Homo sapiens: one gene and its partner. The protein of the gene in region 2 interacts with the protein of the main gene of each other region in a biochemical or structural test. Each region holds a gene or a part of one and is shown on either strand. Other genes may lie near its edges.

Evidence for each region.
Region 1: the proteins of APAF1 (region 2) and APIP form a complex in vitro, tested with the Homo sapiens proteins (one study listed by BioGRID).

What each region holds. Positions count from the first base shown.
Region 1 is NC_000011.10:34,913,373-34,921,251, forward strand, and holds the start of APIP (methylthioribulose-1-phosphate dehydratase), read right to left. Parts: upstream 3,008-7,879; 5' UTR 2,913-3,007; coding exon 2,856-2,912; intron 2,567-2,855; exon of another isoform or gene 2,548-2,566; intron 1-2,547. Other genes in the region: PDHX (pyruvate dehydrogenase protein X component, mitochondrial isoform 1 precursor), read left to right, coding at 3,284-3,443. UniProt on the Homo sapiens protein: Catalyzes the dehydration of methylthioribulose-1-phosphate (MTRu-1-P) into 2,3-diketo-5-methylthiopentyl-1-phosphate (DK-MTP-1-P).
Region 2 is NC_000012.12:98,676,281-98,683,299, reverse strand, and holds part of APAF1 (apoptotic protease-activating factor 1), read right to left. Parts: intron 5,876-7,019; coding exon 5,749-5,875; intron 3,024-5,748; coding exon 2,898-3,023; intron 158-2,897; coding exon 26-157; intron 1-25. UniProt on the Homo sapiens protein: Oligomeric Apaf-1 mediates the cytochrome c-dependent autocatalytic activation of pro-caspase-9 (Apaf-3), leading to the activation of caspase-3 and apoptosis. This activation requires ATP. Isoform 6 is less effective in inducing apoptosis.

The DNA of each region.
Region 1 (7,879 bases), on a different chromosome or scaffold from region 2:
AAAGATGGTGTGTACGGAGTTTGTTCGTTCAGATGTTCAGAGTTTCTTCCTTCTGGTGGGTTCGTGGTCTTGCTGACTTCAGGAGTGAAGCTGCAGACTTTCACAGTGAGTGTTACAGCTCTTAAAGGTGGCACGCAGGTTGTTCGTTCCTCCCGGTGGGTTCATGGTCTCGCTGACTTCAGGAATGAAGCCGCAGACCTTCGCAGGGAGTGTTACAGCTCATAAAGGTAGTGCGGACCCATAGAGTGAGCAGCAGCAAGATTTATTGTGAAGAGCGAAAAAACAAAGCTTCCACAGCCTGGAAGGTGACCGAGGGGGGTTGCCGCTGCTGGCTCTGGTGGCCAGCTTTTATTCCCTTATTTGGCCCCACCCACATCCTGCTGATTGGTCCATTTTACAAAGAGCTGATTGGTGGGTTTACAAACCTTTAGCTAGACACAGAGCGCCGATTGGTGCATTTACAATCCTTTAGCTAGACAGAAAAGTTCTCCAAGTCCCCATCCGACCCAGAAGCCCAGCGGCTTTACCTCTCACTAGCTTTTCTCTTTAGCTTCATCTCAAGTCTCTGGCCCCTACTTTATGTTCCAGAACACCAAACTTAATATGGGAACACACCATGTCTGTAATCAAGGACAACCCTGAGATTGTGTACATGCTACTTCCCCTACTTGGAATATCCTTACTTTCATTGCATGTGGTTATGTCTTCCTGATCCTTTAGGCCTCAGTAGATACTTTCACTGTTTCCTGAGGTATTCTCTAACCCATTCAAGTGTATACTCCTAAACTACCTTGAACTTTCCCATCTAAGTCATATCGTCATATGTCAAACTATGTCATGTTGTCATACCATCTTTGTCTCTTTGCTAATTTGTCTCTTCCACTGTACAGCATGTTCTAGGGGAGAAGGAACCAGATGCAGCTTGCACTTATAAATCCACAATGCCTGGCACATAGTAGGCGCTCACTAAATATTCGTTGAATTAATCACTTACAGTTGAACATTCCCCTTCCTTAAGGCCAAAGAGACTGTCTCTTTCCATTGCCCATGACCCCCTAAAACTACAATGAAATTTTATGACTTCTTAAAACTTTTCTTATTGCTGTTTTTATGTATTTGTACAAAACCAGACAAATACAAATATCTAGAGGGGCTCATGTATTTAACTAGATATGCAAATCCAGTGTGAGTAGTGGAAGCTGTGGTAACCTGGCCAGCACCCTCTGTAAAGGTGGTGTTCACTAGTAACCGCAATCCAGATCCCATGAAAAAATAAGGGCCCAATGTCACCATGTGTTCTGAGGTTTTAAAAGAAGCTGAAATGATTCTGGATTTTGAAATGTTGGCTTGGCAGGGCGTGGTGGCTTACACCTGTAATCCCAGCACTTTGGGCAGCTTAGGGGGGTGGATCACCTGAGATAACGAGTTCGAGACCAGCCTGGCCAACATGGTGAAACCCAGTCTCTACTAAAAATACAAAAATTAACTGGGTGTGGTGACATGCGCCTGTAATCCCAGCTACTTGGGAGGCTGAGGCAGGAAAATCGCTTGAACCAAGGAGGCAGAAGTTGCAGTGAGCTGAGATCACGCCACTGCACTCCAGCCTGGGCAACAAGAGCAAAACGTGTCAAAAAAAAAAAAAAAAAAAAAAAAAGGTTGGCTCAAATTTTTCATGAACATTGAGTGCAGCAAAAAAAAAACATGCCTGTCCACCAAGCTGTCTGTGGGCCATGTTTGGTTTGAGAATCCTAGTTTATTCTCGGGTCCCTTAAGGCTCTCTTTGATGCTCATTCTGATGACATTACACTAAGATTTACTGATTGAGGGTACGGACACTTCTCCATACACACTTGCCCAGGAACGATCTCCAGTTACCTGTCCTGTCTCCAAGATCTTCTCTCTCTCATCCAATCTTGCCTATGCAGCATTCTATTTTCAGAGTCGTCTTTGCTAATTTGGGGAAGTCACTTATTCAAACAAGAAAGTGGTTGACAAATGTTTAGCAATGAAATCTCCCGCGAGTTACTACTTTTTAATTAGGATTTTCAACCCTAAGAAAGATATAGATAGGAGGAATAAGATAGGGGGAATAAGGAAACTAATTTTGAGGGGTTTCCCTGCCTCTTAGGTGGGGTTTATCATATTGTGCTGAAACTGCTTATTCGTCTAGTTCTCCAGACCCTGGGCCATTTATCTTACGTATCCCTATCTCTGAGCGTGTAGAAGGCGCTCCATAAAACTGTTGGTTTGTGTAAATGACCGAAAACTACATGCAGCGTGAGGGTGGATTTCCCTTTGACTTCGGCTTAAGGAAGAATCGTTCCCATGATCATCCCACAATTCATCTAAACGGAGATAGGCAAGGAGCAACTGCTCAAAGGCAAAGCGCTGGCAGCTGAGGCACAGCTCCGGTTCGGCAAACGTCTCCCGAGTGCCAAACGTCCCCCCAAACGCCTAACTGGTCGTCAGGGCGCAGAAAAGAAGCTTGGGGGGCGCGGTCTTCGCCCCAGCTCCACTTCGGTGCTTCACGATTCCTTCTCTGGCCTGCCTTCCTGATAAATACCCGGTGAGGTCACCTAAACGCTCTCCTCTCTCAGTTATTTGCTTCTTTCCAACGTTTGGCGCCCAGCTCCCGCCATCGGAGCGCCCCGCCCGAGACCACTGATCTCCTGGGGCCTCGCAGCCTTGCTTCCGAACGCCAAGGTCGCGGTGCGCCGGGGTAGCGAACGGCCAGGCCCGAAACCCCGCCCCGCAGCTAAACGCCCGGCCCGCTACCCTGCGCCCAGCTCCAGCCGCCGGGTCCCGCCTGGGCCTCTCCTCCTGGGAATACCGGGCACCGGTGGCCCCGCCCCTACCTGCGCGCCGCATCTCCGGGAACAACAGTCTCCCTCCCGAGCATCACAGCCAGACATGGCCCAGACCAGGGACCCGCGCGGCCTCCAATCTCCGCACGGCTTTGCGCGCGGCGCTTAGCCTGGGATACGGCAGCGAGGCCGCAAATGCAATCAGGCGGCGCTGAGGGCAGCCCGGGGGCGGGGCGAACGGGGCGGGGGCCGGGGTCTGGTAAGGCCCCGCCGGCTGAGATATCCAGCGGCGCACCTGACTTCCCGGGAGGCAAGGCCAACGTGGTTGGAGGCGGGGCTGGGTTGGGGGGCGGGGGTTCAAGTCTGAGAGACCTAAAGGCACCGCTAGCGTCTGGGGGCGTGGCCAACCATGCGGGAGGCGGGGCCTTGATGCTGGACATCAGGCTGTGCTGCGGGCAGCCAGTGAGAAGGCCGTCAAGATGGCGGCCTCCTGGAGGCTGGGCTGTGATCCGCGGCTGCTGCGTTATCTTGTGGGCTTCCCCGGCCGCCGAAGCGTAGGGCTGGTGAAGGGGGCTCTTGGGTGGTCTGTAAGCCGCGGAGCTAATTGGAGATGGTTTCACAGCACGCAGTGGCTTCGGGGTGAGTGGCCGGGGCTCGCTCAGCTTCTCTGTGTAGCTGAGTGATGGGCCTGGGACAGGGGCAGTTATGATTGAGGGCCTGCTTTTGGGTGTGAAGGTGCGCGGGCTCCTTATTCCCTTTCCTCTTTCTCCGGTTGGGGTCCGCCGACTTGGCCTAATGCATGCTGTGAAGGGCTTTCTTGGCAGCTGAGAGAACTCGACTCTGCCCTAGGCCCCCTGGTTTGTATGGCTTTGTGACCTTGCCTTGGAATTTGGGTTATTTGTGAGGCGCAGAGAGGGTTCCCAAACTCTCCTCCCTCAGCCCCCTTTCCAATCAAGGCTCAGGTTTCTTTAGGGTTGTCAAACGTCTCGGACGAGAAAAAGCTGCCCAAGGTTGCCGAGATTGAAAAGCCACTGTTGGGAGTTCTTACTTATTCTCTAGGCCTCTCTCTGTTAGGAGGTGTTTTCATTGAGGCCAGTCGAGTTTTACCCCACGCCATGACTCGTGGAAGACTTAAATTTGTAAATTCCTACGGCATCACGATAGACAAAGGTCCAGGAGAATGTTTCAAGCAAATATTCGCTTGAAAGAGCAAACATTTAGGAGATAAATCATACCAAAAATTTATTATAGAAAATTGTTGTTTAGTAATGATATTGATGCAGTTAACACAATTCTTGCAGTATTTAACAGTATGCAAAATGGCAGGCCGGGTATTATTTTTCCTTATTTTGGGAGAAGGTTGGAGGGAGGCGGGGATGGAGAATAGGACTGACGTTTTTTAGTGTGACGTATTACCTGCCAATCATCGTTCCTGGCACTCTACAGAATGAATTTTAATTTAAATAGGTCTAGTAGACGTTGCCTTCATATTCTGAGCTACCTTAGGCTCAGAAAAAAAAAATCACACAAAGTCATATGGTAAGATGAGTGTATTGGGGTTCCTAAAGGTTCCTTAATGGGAACAATTTATTTCATTTTTGGTGTAATGTTTCATAACATATTCCTTGGAGCAGAGGTGCTTTAACAGTGTGTGCAGAATTCCTTCTCTTCCCTCCTCCAAGTTTGTTGAAATTAAACTTTTTTCCAGCTCCTAGAGATTCGGTCTGGTCTGGTGTGGGGCTCAGGAATCTGCATTTTACAAATGTTGGATGAGTTTTGATGTTTTATTTTGACATTTAATGGAATGAGCTTTGAGACTCACTGCCTTAGAAAATCATGGAATATTAAAAGTTTAGTATTGGATATAATCTAGGAAGAGTGCTCTTAATCTTGTTTATCAAGCAGATCCTTTTGAGAATCTTTGAAAATGTTACAGACTCTCTGTACAGAGGAAGTACCATAAATGGTCACACACAAAAATGTGCACGTAGTGGCTCACGCCTGTAATCCCAGCACTTTGGGAGGCGAAGCTGGAAGATTGCTAGAGCCCAGGAGTTGGAGACCAGCCCGGGCAACAAAGTGAGACCCCCGTCTCTACTTAAAAAAAAAAAAAGAAAGAAAAAAAGCCAGGCGTGCTGGCATCCCAGCTACTCCAGGGGCTGAGGCAGGAGGATCCGTTGAACCCAGGAGTTAGACGTTTCATTGAGCTATGATCCTGCCGCTGCACTTTAGCCTGGGTGACAGAGTGAGACCCTGTCTCAGGAGAAAAAAAAAAAAAAGTATACATAGGCCCAGTTTAATGCCTTTAGAAACTCAGTTAGGCAAGCAATCCTTATCTGCATCCTCATGATGCTTTTTTACCTATTCCCTATCCCCTAGACATATACCATGAACAACTTGTCTACCCCAGTTTGAATACCATCTGTCAGGAAGAAGGCATGGCATCTCAAGGAAAGCCAAATTAGTTTTCTAGTGCTGCTGCAACAAATTACCAGAAATTAGTGGCTTAAAACAACACAAATTCACATCTCATAGTTCTAGAGGTCCGAAGTCCAAAATGGATCTAACTAGGCTAAAATCAAGCTATTGGTAGGAGCTGCATTCTTTTCTGGAGGCTCGAGACCCCATTCCCTTAAGTTTTCCAGATTCTAGAGGTTTCTAAGATTCTTTGACTCATGGGCTTCAAAGTCAGCAATGGCTGGTTCAGTCTTTATCACATTACGTCACTCTTAATACTCCCCTCTGCCTTCTGCCACTTACAAGGACCCTTGTGATTACATTGGGCTCATCTGGATGATCCTGAATATTTTCCCCATCTCAAGGTTGAGTAGAAACCTTAATTCCATCTTTAACCTTAATTCCCTCTTGCCATGTAACAGCATATTCATAGGTTCTGGGTATTAGGACGTGAACCTTTTGAGGCATGGCATTCTGCATGTGAAGCTGTGGAAAGTATTTGGAAATACTAAGTATTTGGAAGTGTTGGACTTTTTTCCTAATACCGAGCCAAAATATATCCGCTTCTGACTTTCACCTACATACAGATTTTTGTTTTGCCATGCCGAAAACACGTGGCAATCCTTGAACTATTTGTTTTACAAACTGTGAATTTACGGTGGTGTTTTTTCTCTGAGCTTGGTAGAAACTGTAGTTTTATAAAACTAAACAACTATTTGGATTACTGTAAACTATATAAATTAAGTACATTTATTGAACTGTTTCGTCTTTCACACAAATATCTTTAAAAATTTGTCAGTCGGAACTACCTTTGGAGTTTTAATTTCCTTAAGAGGTGCTGGCAGCATTTTTATGAGCTATGACATATGCCATTTTCTTAGCACTTTCTAGAATTTCTCATTCACTTCTCACATAACCTAGTAAAGTTGGCATCATCTGCATTTAGTTGGACAAAAACACCAAGGCTTAGAGAAATTGAGTCTCCTAAAGACATGTAACTGTGTTGATGAACTGAAGTGCATGTATATATTTATATACATATATTAATTTGTTTAACAAATCTTTAATTTGTATCATTCTCTCAACAGATTTATTGAGAATGCAGAGACTATCTTTTTTACCACTTACATTATTGAAGAATGAGTGAAGAAATTAGCATCTATTAGGTGCCAGGCACATGGTACCCTGCTTGGGAAGTAGTGGCCAGCTGAATCAAACAGATTCTCAGTATTTGCCACATGGCACATTTAATCATACTTAGCTCCTGGACATGCAATCCAAAATTCTATATAGGGCTGATCCTTAAGGTATTTGTAGTCTCTTTGGGGACATAAACAATAAAGGTATGATTTCAATAGTGTATACAGTAAGCTCAGAGGGGGTAAGTTTGAAATGATCAGGAAATAATATATAAGGCAGCTTCTTAGAGGAAGAGGTGACAGCCCTTACAGGCTGAAGGAACAGCAGAAACAAAGACCCAGAGACCAGAGTGATCATTATATAATTGACACAGCATCTGTAAACAGTTTTTCAACCTACTCTAGACAGTTAACTTCAGAGAGTTTAAATTGTGGTCCTTTCAGAGTAGGTAGCATGATTTGGAATATAATTGGTAAGATGTTAATTAATAGTATTGGTTTTAAGTTGTCTCTGAAGAATAACATGTTGAATTTAAAATAACCTGTGAATAGAAAAGTAACTGAGGTTCAATCTTGGTGGCGATTTGCCTAGTATATAATTATAGGCAATACATATTATAGATGTTCAATAAACATATCTAAGGAAGCTAGTAATCTAGGAAGTTATAAAAGAACACTAGAGCCTACAGTAGGATTCCAAGTTGGCAGCCAGGGAACTGACCCACATTGTTTTAGCAGAAAAACTTATGGCAAAATTTTAAAATCAGGAGACTTTACAGAGAAATCTAGATTTTTGTTCTCTCTTTAAAATTGATAGTTAAATCCTATGTGGTGACAATTATCTAACACTGAGTAATGATTGTTCTTTTTAGGTAGGAAATTGCTTCCTACTTTGTCACTATGCCGCCTACTCTGTATTACATCTTAGCAAGGCTGAATGTCCCTTGGTATTTGCATCACCTCTAGTTGTCATTTTTTTTTCTTGTACTCTTATCTCTACGGAAGGCAGAAGACAAAAGACCAAGAAAAATGGGAGAAAGCAGATATTGTGTATATGTGTAAAGGAGGAAAATGCTTATCCATTTAATATGAAAATAAAGGATGTCAGAATCTAAAGAAAAAACCTGAAGATGCTAGTCCTCTTCTCTCACCTGCCTGTTTTTTGTAGGCATCTGAGTTTTTGACAGCAGTGCTATAACCAGGAGAGAGGGAACTTCTTTGATAGAGTTAATGGTATGGTATTTCTGCCAAAACACGGATACTCTTTTAGGCCTGGTTCTTATTAAGTGCTTATACACTGATAAGATTGATATTCTCCTTTGAATTCTCATTTAACTGTGGAAACAGAAACATGTAGAATAGCTCTAGTAAAAGTAGGATTTATTAAAAGGATAGAACATCACTTATAAAATGCTGCAGGGCCATGGGGAAACCATAATTATTCCATCTATTTCTTCTAGGGCTCATATTATTTGTCTT
Region 2 (7,019 bases):
CCTAATTCTCAATATCCACACTTACTTTGAGGAAGCAGTCACTTGACCCAGTGGCTAAGAGAAGATGATGACTACTGTTGGTGAAATGGCAGCAATTGACTTGCTCTGAGTGCTCATCATAGGTGTGTACTAGTTCCCCAGTCATAGAATTCCAAATCTAAAGAGAAAAGAGAAAAAATTTACAAATATCCATTATTTTCAAAGGGAGAACAGAGGGGCAAAGCAATGTCCATTGCTTTGCAAATGCTATCTTATCCTGTCATAGCAGATTTTCCTAGTTGGACAAGATGCTAATGAAACCTCTCCCCTTTCTAAAATATGGCAATATTTTGCCTTAATGTTTAAAAAAAATTATTTGCAAATATACATATATGTACCTATAGCATAACTAGAGTGTCATGAACACATGACATTTCTTAAGGGCAAGATTTCACATGTTTATATGAATGAAAGCAGGCAGAGAAGTGCTTTAAAGAGGTTAGCATAATAGATTTCTGGTCAGAAGGGTTGAGCCCAAGAGCTGGCTCTACCACTTATGACTTGTGTGTCACAAATCCCTAACTTACCTGCATCTCAGTTCCCTCTTCTGTAAAATGGGGATATCTATACCTCTCCCACACAATTTAAGATATCAAATGAGATAATGAACATGACAAGTGTTCTATGGACTTCAAGGTACCATATAAATAAGTAAAGGCAGATTGCTTAGTTAAAAAAAATAAAGGTTTTATAGTCTGAGAGAAACCCAGCTTTCAACCCTATTACTGTTCCCAGTTTAATGTAAGCTTGAGCAAGAGACTTCATCTCTGAATCTGCGTCCTCTTCTGTAAACGGGATCGACACTTAACCCTGCAAGCTGTAGCAGGAAATTGATAATGTAATATGACAAAGTGTGTAGTATTTATAGCCTCTTATAGTGTTCAGTTTTCAGTAAAAAGTAATCATCAGGCCGGGCGCGGTGGCTCACGCCTGTAATCCCAGCACTTTGGGAGGCCGAGGCGGGCAGATCACGAGGTCAGGAGATCAACACCATCCTGGCTAACATGGTGAAACCCCGTCTCTACTAAAAATACAAAAAATTAGCCAGGCGCGGTGGCGGCCGCCTGTAGTCCCAGCTACTCGGGAGGCTGAGGCAGGAGAATGGCATGAACCCGGGAGTCGGAGCTTGCAGTGAGCCGAGATAGCGCCACTGCAGTTCAACCTGGGCGAAAGAGCGAGACTCCGTCTCAAAAAAAAAAAAAAAAAAACAAAAAAATTAATCATCATTCTAGTTACTATGTAAGACAACTAAGCAGTCTATGCCATATAACAACAAACAAAAGAAATAAATTACCTAATGAACCTTCACTGGGATTTTGACTTTTTAGAGGTACTAATGTCCTTTGGCATTTCCTTTGTATGTTATCAAAGCACTGATTAGAATCCCCAGAGGTCCAGAGAGTTTATCTTATTTTAAAGTTCTTTAATAGGTATTTCTACCTCTGGCTTAGAAAACAGAAACTCATTATTATTTCCTTTTACTCCATGTAGCTCTGACTTTAGAACTGCCCTCAGTGGCCACCTCCAAGTCTGACTCAGAGTCAGAGTAGACACTACAGAGTGAATTAACTGTTGGTTAAGCCACGAGTCCAATCTATCAAGAGGTAGATTTTTCCAAGGTCTCAAATTTAGTCTGGACATTCCATAGCCCTCTTCCAGTAGGTGAAAACTTCAGGAAAACACCCAAGGCAAATTTCTTGCCCACTCCACCTAGCTACATCCAGTACTCCAGATTTAACCCCTTTGAAAAAGGGTTAAAGTAAGGTCTGTCTTCCATATATCAGTGATAACCCCCACAAGCCTTCAGTTTCTCTTGAATTCTATATTAGTATAAATGCTCCTGGTAGAAGCCAAATTTAGGAACAAGAGAATACTTAACAAAAATAAAAATTACTCTCTGGCGGGGCACAGTGGCTCATGCCTATAATCTCAGCACTTTGGGAGTCAAAGGCAGGCGGATCACTTGAGGCCAGAAGTTCAATACCAGCCTGACCAACATGGCAAAACTCTGTCTCTACCAAAACTACAAAAATTAGCTGGGCATGGTGGTGCACACCTGTGATCTCAGCTACTCAAGAGGCTGAGGCATAAGAATCAATTGAATCCTGGAGGCAGAGATTGCAGTGAGCCGAGATTGTACCACTGCACTCCAGTCTGGGTGTCAGAGCAAGACTCTGCCTCAAAATAAATAAGTAAAAATTACTCTGTTTACTTTTCTCTATTTATGTTTTTAGACCAGTAACGTAATTATTAGTTTGTTCATCCACCTGGTTTTCCACTGAATATATAAGCCAGTTCATAAGCAAATTAAAAAAATTGGGGTTGCATTTTAAAATTGTATCTTACAACAGGAATCCCCAAGTTTGTGCAGCAACACTCCTAATCACAATGCACTCAAAGATTTCAACTGATATTTAACCCATGGACTTGTCTATTAATGGAAGACAAACTCACTAATTTGTCATTGCTTTTCCCCACTGCTTGTTTAATCCTGAGGTGATCAACCTAGGCATTTTTGCTGGTGTTTAAAAATAAAGAATTTTCAGGCCACGCACAGTGGCTCATACCTATAATCCTAACACTTTGGAAGGCTGTGGCAGGAGGATCACTTGAGCCCAGGAATTGGAGTTTACAGTGAGCTATGATCATGCCACTGCCCTCCAGCCTGGGTCACAGAGCAAAATCCTGTCTCTTTAAAAAAAAGTAAAGAATTTTCAGATAGTGTTAATTTACAATGAATCAGGTTAGTAGATCAACAGGTGAGAGTCCTTTAACTCTACTTACTCTGGTCTCATGATCATGGAAAAATAAAATGAATTCTGTTGTGATTACAACTCAAGAGGAAAAGATTTTCCTACCTTCACTTTTTTATCCACTGAGCAGGTTGCTATAAATCTGTCATCTGTAGAGAATGCACAACAAAGCACTTCATCCTCATGAGCCTTGATTTCTAGAAGTTTCTCTCCTGTTTCAGCTTTGAACACCTGCACAAGTAACAATAAAATATTTTTTATAATAAACTGCTTAACTACTGGTCATCATTCAATAAAAATCTTTAAGTGAGTTTAATCATTGTCATTTTGCAAAACAGAAAGGAACCTTGGCAAAGCTACTCCCAAAATCAGAATTTCTGTCAGAATGTGTATGCCTTCACATAACTAGAGAACTATTCACTGTTACATGTTTGTAAATATCAATGAAAATGTTACAGGATCTTTGGGGTGTTGATTTTCTGGCCAGAAACTTCTGTGGCCGGTGGCGCCTTTGCCCAAGTTTTGCTTGGGCCCACTGGTCTTGTTTCACCCACTTGGCCTGACAGGCTGCATTCAGCTCACACTACCAGCCTGGGTCCCAAGCCTGCCAAGGGCGAGTCAGGCGTGGAACAGCGAGGCGTGTGTGAGTGAGCGTGGGGTCCAGCCACTGCGCACAGACGTGCTGACTGCTGCAGCGGGGCAGGCAGCTCCAGGTGCCAGCATGGGCTCTGGCTCTCTGTGAGGCTGTGGCTGGACCAGGCACACCACAAGCAGCTTACACGCTGGCACCGGGGAACACGGTGGTGCCCAGAAGCTTGGAGATGCCAGGAACCGCGGGGCCCCAAAGAGGGAGTCACAGCCCTAGCTTGGGGAGCTCCCAAGTCTGGGCTCCCCGAAGGGCCGCAGCTTTTCTTTACTTATCTTCACTTGCAATGCGGCAAGCAAGGGGCATGTCTCAGCCCTGTTTGTGTTACAGCTCTTTTAGCCTCACCATTCAGTGGGATCCCAAGTTCTTGTCCTACAACCAGGAAGAATGTGGTACGCTGACAGGTGGAAGGTGAGCAAGACAAACAGGAGCTTTATTGAGCGATAAAATAGCTCAATAAACCTGCGGGGGGCAGCTCCTTTCCACAGCTCAGGAGAGGGTAGCTCCTCTCTGCTAGGCAAGTCCTCCTGACAAGTGTTCAGCTATCAGCAGAGAGGGTAGCTCCTCTCTGCAGCTGGTCCTCCTGTCATCTGCACAGCTCTCAGCAAAGAGGGGGCACTAGAGTGGGTTGCTCCTCTCTGCAGCTGGTTGTCCCAGTGTCTGCTCAGCACTGGCTAAGCCCGAGGCTTTTATGGGCTTCAGAAGGGAGGAAGTACATGCCAACTGGTCCATGGGCAGACATGGGCAAGCCTGGAAAAGGCACTATAAGTTCCCACTCCAGTCCATTCAGTCCACACCAGCAGCCCAGCCCCCAGTCTTCAGGCCCTTTGTGGCCTGAAGGTGGGGCCTCATTGGTGACCCGCCCCCTTCCACCCAGGAACCTGTCTGCCTCCTGCTGCCATGAATGGCACCCAGGCTGTAGGTGCCAAGGGGAGCCTGCAGGCCAGTATCAAACTGCCCTCAGCACCCCCTTGGCTTCCCTCCTATGCTCATCAGCACCCAAAGTCCGGAGGGGGCCGAGGCGGCAGGGGGCTGGCATGTCAGCACTGCCCCAAGCATGTGCACATCTGGCCGGGCTGCAACAGCACCCAGGCTCAGCCCCAGCTTTGCTCTAAGATCAGAGTGGGTGCCAACAGTAGGGAGAAGTCAGGCAGCGGGAGCAGGCACTTCCAAGCCTACAAGGGCAGGGGGTCCTTCCAGGTCCCCCAAGAGTACAGGGATGCCTGAGTCTGCAGCCACCGCTTGGGCAGCTACAGCTGCACCAGGGGGAAGGGGTCCTGCCTGCTCTGTGGAGCCGGAGGCCCGAGCCTGCAGCTGTGGTTTGGGCGGCTACAGCTACACCCAGGAGGGCAGGGCTCTGGCCTGCTCCATGGAGCGGGTTCCCAGGTCCACAGCTGTGGCTTGGGCGGCTACAGCAGGAACCAGGAGCTCCTGCCCCAATTCAGAAGGGGTAGGGTTCCTGCTTGTCCCCAGCTACCGCCAGCTCCACAGAGCATGCAGCCCCAGCTGCGCCTCCCTGCTGCAGCCAGCATGATGGCAGCAGCCACTCCAGGCAGCCCGCCGCTGCCATCAAAAAGAAGTGTCAGAGCACAGCTTCAGCTCTTGAGACTATTTTGGCAAATTCTTAACAATCAAATAAAACATTTCATTTAATATGCATTCTCTCTGGAACTCAAAAGCCAAGATTAATAAAATTAGTAATAAAGTACACATATAGACATAAGCTATGGAGTCATAATCTTGCAAAGACTAAAAGTATCCTAAATACAAGTTTTAACTAATTTCATCATGTTCTCTGCAAAATCAAAAGGCAGAACACAAACATAAAGAAAAGTACTCATTAATATTTTCTGAAAACAAAGGGAATCTTAAAGGAAATTCTTTAAAACAACTTAGGAAATAGTCTAGTCCAGTTCCTATTTACAAGAAAAAAACCTATGCCTAAGACTTTGATAAAATAGGTATTTTCCTAATCACTGTTTTTTAATCACAGCCCTATTCCCTGTGCTATGAAGCCCTACGTCTTCTAACAATTATTTCCTCACTACCCTTAGCTGACAAATGGATGGCTGGGAACTGACTGGCAGGGTAAAGGGCACTTCCTTACCACCTGTAAGTTTAGAATTAGGAAAACATGTAACTGTATCTTTTAAATCTCTAGAGAAACCTTTAATAAAATGTTCAAGAGAGCTGGATTCCTCTGTTATTTCTAAGTTGCAATTTTCTTGAATTTTAGGATTTAAACATATTCTGATCTGCACAAAACTGGATACATGCCTCTTTGCATTTTTCTCAAGAGATGTGTTTTACCTGTAAGGTTTTATCAGCTCCACAAGAAGCTATTCTCTGACCATCCTCAGAAAAGCAGGCATGGTAAACAGCATCTGTGTGGGGGCGGACAACTAAGCGGGAAAGATTCGTGATGTTTTTTTTGTTTCTAAATACAGGGAAAAAATGAACAGAAATTAAATAAATGAGAGTAAAAGTAACTATTTTCTTTCAGTACTAAAATAAACTGTCTTTTAACATGGTTATGTTCCCCAAAATACAAAATTCTTAAAATCAGATTACTAACATGCAAATGACAGCACAGATCACCAAAAGAAAAAAAATAACAAAAGTAGCATTTGTAAGAGAAATGTTACCCTTTATCAAGCAACCTGTCACGTGTTACAAATGTCACTGAGTTGGAAGAAATCTAATTAATCAAATTAATCAAATCTAGTTAATCAACATGTCACTTTCCATTTTCCTTTGATACATTAATAATGATACATGTGCAGATAAATCATTATATAAGGATACCTTCAAAAATTCTCCATCTCTTTTTTAAAATAAAAATCATAGCAAAATGCTCATTTCCTAACTGAAGGAAACACCCACCATTATTATGATGTACTTTAAAGCTGCTCTTCTCAGCCAGGCGCAGTGGCTCATGCCTGTAATCCTAGCACTTTGGGAGGCCAAGGTGGGTGGATCACCTGAGGTCAGGAGTTCAAGACCAGCCTGGCCAACATGGCGAAACACCGTCTCTACTAAAGATAAAAATTAGCTGGGTGTGGTGGCACGTGCCTGTAATCCCAGCTACTTGGGAGGCTGAGGCAGGAGAATCGCTTGAACCTGGGAGATGGAGGTTGCAGTGAGCCAAGATCGCGCCACTGCACTCCAGCCTGGGCGACAGAGCAAGACTCCATTTCAAAAAAAAAAAAAACTGCTTCTCTCAAACTACAATTATTCAGACATACCAAAAAGATAAAGCAACATCATATTCTTTGTATCTCAATCTAATGAATATCAACTATTCCACCAGTATAGATATTATATTACTGCTCATAGTATCTAAAGTATAAAGGGGCCAGGCATGGTGGTTCACACCTGTAATCCCAGGACTTTGGGAGGACGAGGCGGGCAGATCACTTGAGGTCAGGAGTTCGAGATGAGCTTGGCCAACATGGTGAAACCCCATCTCTACTAAAAATACAAAAATTAGCAGGCATGGTGGCACACACCTGTAATCCTAGCTACTCGGGAGGCTGAGGCATGAGAATCGCTTGAACCCTGGAGGTGGAGGTTGCAGTGAG